Regions from separate parts of the Homo sapiens genome. Here region 2 is linked to region 1. The links come from fine-mapping of genetic effects on gene expression. A gene starts in region 1. The other region holds a variant in brackets. All regions are shown on one strand. Distances are from middle to middle.

Region 1 (2,500 bases):
ATTGGATCTCCACCAGCGGCCAGAACTGGTGCACCTCCAGGCCCGCCTCGTCCTGCGTGTCGTGGTTGAACTGGTTGGGCATGTGCGTCAGGTTGTAGCCGATGCCGCGGCACATGGGCACCGTGATTTCCTGGCACACCGGGGCCTTGGACGCGGCGGCCGCCCGGCCCACCAGCTGCGCTAGGAGCAGCAGCAACAGCGAGGGCGGCGCGGATGGGTCAGGCCGAGCCATCGCCCCCTCCCTCCCCTCGCCTCCAGCAGCCCGCGAGGGACGCACACAGGCAGAGGAATCCGGGCCGGGGCTTCTCCCTCCGGCGTCTCGTGTGTGGCGCCGGGGCTGGCAACCTGTTGGTTGCTTTTTCCTTTAAAGAAAACCGTCCAAAGATAAACTGCTTCGGGAAGGCGCTGCCTCCGCTGGCAGCGCTCCGCTCCTCGCCGGATAGGGCTGGGGAGAGACGGTTAGGGCTCGGATTCCAGGGAAAGGACTCTTTAAAAAAGAAGGGGGAGAAGAAAGATTGCAACCACTCCCTGTTGGAGAGGCGTCAACAGTTCGGTCCCCGCGAGCTGTCTCCAAATCTCTTAAGTTAACCCCTTTCCTTTCCTCCCCGCTCCGCCTCCTGTAACCAAACTACCGACTCCCCCACCCTCTCTTTCCAAGCTGGGCCCTTCAGGCAGTGCCCGGAGACCAGAACCCTCAGCTTCCCGGAAAAGGGCACAGGAAACGGGAGAAGAACAGGGAGAAAGGGAAGGTTCTCACCTCCACGGATCCCGCCGAGAAGAGCAGACAGTCCCCAGCCAGCCTGGGTCCTCCGTCCCTGGGTCACTCCGCTGAGAAGCGCGACTCAGAGCCGGGCTGGCGCCCGGAAAGTTTAGCGACAGGCTGGGTACCCGTGGCAGCGGCACATGGCAGCAGGTGGGGGCGACTCAGAGTGGGGGGCGCCCCCAGAACAGGGGCGGCGCAGGCCGGTCACTCGCCCTCTCCTCCTCGGGAGCCCCCCGCATGATCCAGACGGAGCCGGGCAGGGGCAGGCCGTGCGTTCTCCCCGGGGCCGGGAGCCGGACGGAGGGCGAGCGCGCCTGGCAGCACCTGGGCGGGAGGAAGGCGGGAGGCGGGGGCCGTGGGACCCCGCCGCCTCACAGCACCGCGAGCAGCCGGCGCTGGCCAGGCCGGGACTGCATGGTGAGCGCCGGCCGCCGCGTCCCGCCCGCCGCTCGCCTCCTCCCCTGCAGGGGGCTCCGCGCTCCAGTGGACTCCTGGGGGCGGTGGCGACGCTCTCGGGACGTGCCCTGCTCGGCTCCTCCCCCGCGCTCTCGCACCCTTTCGCCCACCTCTGGCGAGCACGGAACCGCGCGCGGCGGCGACCACAGCGGACTCACGGCCGCAGGCTGGCTGCCCTCTCCCGCCCCGCCCGGGTCACCTGCTTCTAATGCCCGCCGGGAAGCCCCGCCCCGGCTCCGCCCCCTCAGGCCCGGGCGCGGTTGGTGGGCCGCCTCGCCAAGCTCTCCGCGCGTCCCCGCCCACTGCCCCGCGGGCTCGGCCTTTCCCCCGGCGCCCTCTGGCCCCGCCAGGAGCGGGCAGCCAAGGAGCGCTGACCAATCGCGGGCCTGGAGGAGATGGGGGCGGGGCGAATGCTAATCATGCCGCTCTGGGCACCCGGGCGGGAAGCCCTTGCCAGAAGTCCCTCCGGAGTTCTCTGCCCGCGCCCTGGGTGCAGGACTCGCTCCTGTAACTTCCTGGCTTATGCACCTTTGCTCCCAGGGCCCCTGCCCTTTCTGCCTGCAGCTAAGCGTCCTTACAGAGTTCAGTGCTTCTTTGAAAGAACTGCTCAAGGAATCACTCTTAGGCGTGGCTGTCTCCCTTCCGAGCTGTCTTGGAACTGTGTGAAAGAAGAGAGGATACTTACTGAGCCCTTTACTGTGTGCCCAACAAAGTGTTAATCGGTTACATCCTTTTTTTTTTTTTTTTTTTTTGAGACGAGTTGTTCTGTCTCCCAGGCTGGAGTGCAGTGGCGCGATCTCGGCTCACTGCAACCTCTGTCTCCCGGGTTCAAGCGATTATCCTGCCTCAGCCTCCTGCGTAGCTGGGATTACTGGCGCCCGCCACCACGCCCAGCTAATTTTTGTATTTTTGGTAGAGACGGGCTTTCACCATGTAAGGCTGTTCTCGAACTCCTGACACCGTGATCTGCCCGCCTCGGCCTCCCAAAATGCTGGGATTACAGGTGTGAGCCACCGCGCCCGGCCCGTTTACATCTTAAGACAAGATCTCACTCCTTACAACAATTCTGAGGCAGGTACTTCCTACAGGTGAAGAAACCGAGACTGAGACTTGGCCAAGGCAACCGAGCTAATCATAGTTCCCCCAAGAAAGGGCGACCTCGGCAAGCAAGTTCACCTCCGTATTCCGATCACCTGGCACATAGTAGCCGCCCAAATGGCAACCCTGGGATTCGAACCCAGGTAGTTGGTCAGCGGCACTCACCATCGTAGCCGCCCCTCC
Region 2 (2,943 bases), 91 kb before region 1:
CAGGAATTCCAGACCAGCCCGGTCAACATGGTGAAACCCTGTCTTTATTAAAAATACAAAAATTAGCTGGGTGTGGTGGCAGGTGCCTGTAGTCCCAGCTACTTGGGAGGCTGAGGCAGGAGAATCGCTTGAACCTGGCAGGCGGAGGTTGCAGTGAGCTGAGATCGCATCACTGCACTCCAGCCTGAGCGACAGAGCAAGACGCCATCTCAAAATAAATAAATAAATAAATAAAAATAGAATTACACATAAAATAGTGGTATCCAGCTTACGGGACGAAAGAGTAATAGAAGCTGGATCCCTCCAGAAACCTAAAAAAAATGAAGAAAAAAAGGCCGGGCGTGGTGGCTCACACCTGTAATCCCAGCACTTTAGGAGGCCAAGGCGGGTGGATCACAAGGTCTAGAGATCGAGACCATCCTGGCCAATATGGTGAAACCCCGTCTCTACTAAAAATACAAAAATTAGCCAGGTGTGGTGGCATGTGCCTGTAATCTCAGCTATTCAGGAGGCTGAGGCAGGAGAATCACTTGAACCCAGGAGGCGGAGGCTGCAGTAAGCCAGGATTATGCCACTGCACTCCAGCCTGGCAACAGAGCGAGACTCCTTCTCAAAAAAAAAAAAGAACAAAAAATAGATTGGTGAATATACTATATCATACTATGCTACACTACACTATACTATATTGTGCTGTATTATAACATACCATATTATAATATACTAGTGATGCTAAAACTAAAGGAGCCCACAGATTTTGAAGAATATCATCATGAGGTAGAGTGAGAGAAGGTATGAGGGGTCTTCTCACTTGTTACTTCTGTCCCTCTCTCCACAGGCAGTGGTGGCTGAGAGGAAGAACTGACACCTTTGTGCTATCAGAGCACTTTGCAGAGGAGCTGTTAGTGGCCCTGTAGGAGTCTGCTGGCCATACATCTGGGTGTCAAATCAAGAGAGCATGAGAAGTTGGACAGGAAAGGTCCAAGGCAAAATGGTTACTAAAGGCCATCCCTGATCCTGACCCTAAAAGAAGAAAAGGCCCTTTGCTCTTGGCATGCTTTTGCAGGAGTGTCTCAGTCTGTTTGGGCTGCTATAACATTGACTGGGTGATCTGCCTGCCTGGCCTCCCAAAGTGCTGGGGTTACAGGTGTGAGCCGCTGCACCAGGCCTTGAGGTCAGGAGTTCGAGACCAGCCTGGCCAACATGGTGAAACCTGTCTTTACTAAAAATACAGAAATTAGCCAGGCATGGAGGCGCATGCCTGTAATCCCAGCTACTGGGGAGGCTGAGGCAGGAGAATCGCTTGAACCCAGAAGGTGGAGGTTGCGGTGAGCCCAGATAGTGCCATTGCACTCTAGCCTGGCCAACAAGAGTGAAACTCTGTCTCAAAAAATAAATAAA[C/T]AAACAAACAAACAACAACGATGTGTTTCTTCATGGTTCTGGAGGCTGGGAAGTCTTTGATCAAGACGCCAGCAGATGTGGTGTCTATGGAGAGCCTGTGTTCTGGTTAGTGAGCAATACCTTCTCTCCGTGTTCTCACGTGGTAGAAGGGGAGAGGCAGCCCTCTGGGGCCTCTTTCATGAGGGCACTAATTCCATTCATGAGGGCTCCCCTCTCATGACCTAATCACTTCCCAATGGGCCCACCTGCTAATACCATCCATCGCCTTGAGGATTAGGTTTTTAATATATGAATTCTGGGGGACAAAAACATTTTGATCATAGCCAGAAGGTAAATCGGTGTTGCTCTAAACTAAGGAAACAGAGAGGACTCTGGGAAATGCTCCTCCCTCCCTGGGGCTCCTAAGCTTCTCAAATATTTTCATCATTGCCATATATCTCTCCTCAACCACGCTACAGCCCTGGATTAGAACATAGCATAGGCCACGACTTTCAATTTGCTTATAATCTGGTGTAGAGATTCATTCATTCACTTAATATACATGCAGCACCTACAATGTGCCATATATATATGCCAGAAAGGCAGAATATTTGCCAAACAAAAGGTGCAACTACTACATGCAATGAGATTTGGGAAGCTGTCTCTGAGGGCTGGATAGCCTGGGAAGGCTTTATCAAAAACTCGTGATTTGAAGTGGGACTTGTAAAATGGGTGGGATTTAGACTGGAGGAGAAGGAGGAGGTAATGCTGGAAATACAGAGGTGTGAGTAGGAGACATGAGGGAATTCAAACTGGAAAGGGAGGTTCCAGGCCAAGCGTGGTGGCTCACGCCTGTAATCCCAGCACTTTGGGAGGCCGAGGCGGGCAGATCACTTGAGGTCAGGAGTTCAAGACCAGCCTCGCCAACATGGTGAAACACTGTCTCTACTAAAAATACAAAAATTAGCCGGGCATGGTTGCAGGCACCTGTAATCCCAGCTACTCGGGAGGCTGAGGCAGGAGAATCACTTGAACTGGGGAGGTGGAGGTTGCAGTGAGCCAAGATCATGCCACTGCACTCCAGCCTGGGTGACAGAGCAAGATTCTGCCTCAAACAAACAAACAACAAACAACAACAACAAAAATTTATACTTTAAAAGAGTGAATGCTGCTATGTAAATTCTATCTCGATTTTTTTAAAAAAATTAGACTATTTATTTATGATCCCTGAATGGAATTAAACTAAATGATAAAAATTTTCTTAAAATCAAGGTAGGAGTCACTTTTTAACCAAAGATTATATTCTTTTTTTTTCTCTTTTTTAACTTTTGTTTTAGGTTCAGGGGCTCATTATGCGGTTTTGTTATATAGGTAAACTCATGTCACGAGAATTTGGTGTACGAATATTTCATTACCCAGGTACTAAGTGTAGTACCTGATAGGTATTTTTAAAATATGGAACACTTCATGAATTTGCATGTCATCCTTATGCAGGGGACATGCTAATCTTCTCTGCATCATTCCAATTTTAGTATATGTGCTGCTGAAACTAGCACCAAAAGTTAT

What was found. PIP is the estimated chance that this variant, and not a neighbour inherited with it, causes the effect.
Region 2: its variant is the best candidate, but not a certain one, in a credible set for the expression of FZD5 in nasal epithelium (TOPMed, PIP 0.57).

The regions. Positions count from the first base shown.
Region 1 is chr2:207,768,508-207,771,007 of GRCh38, forward strand. FZD5 (frizzled class receptor 5) reads right to left here and starts at 1,399. Exons shown (of 2, transcript NM_003468.4): 1 at 758-1,399; 2 at 1-487. The coding sequence starts at 232. RefSeq lists silencers at 150-209, 620-679, 1,020-1,699 and enhancers at 2,250-2,299, 2,464-2,500.
Region 2 is chr2:207,677,707-207,680,649 of GRCh38, forward strand. LINC01857 (long intergenic non-protein coding RNA 1857) reads left to right here. Exons shown (of 4, transcript NR_135566.1): 4 at 836-1,416. It also overlaps the pseudogene RNU6-664P. Among named protein-coding and RNA genes, the nearest start is that of LINC01857, 17 kb to the left of the region's middle. The variant C/T (reference allele first, on the strand shown) is at 1,399.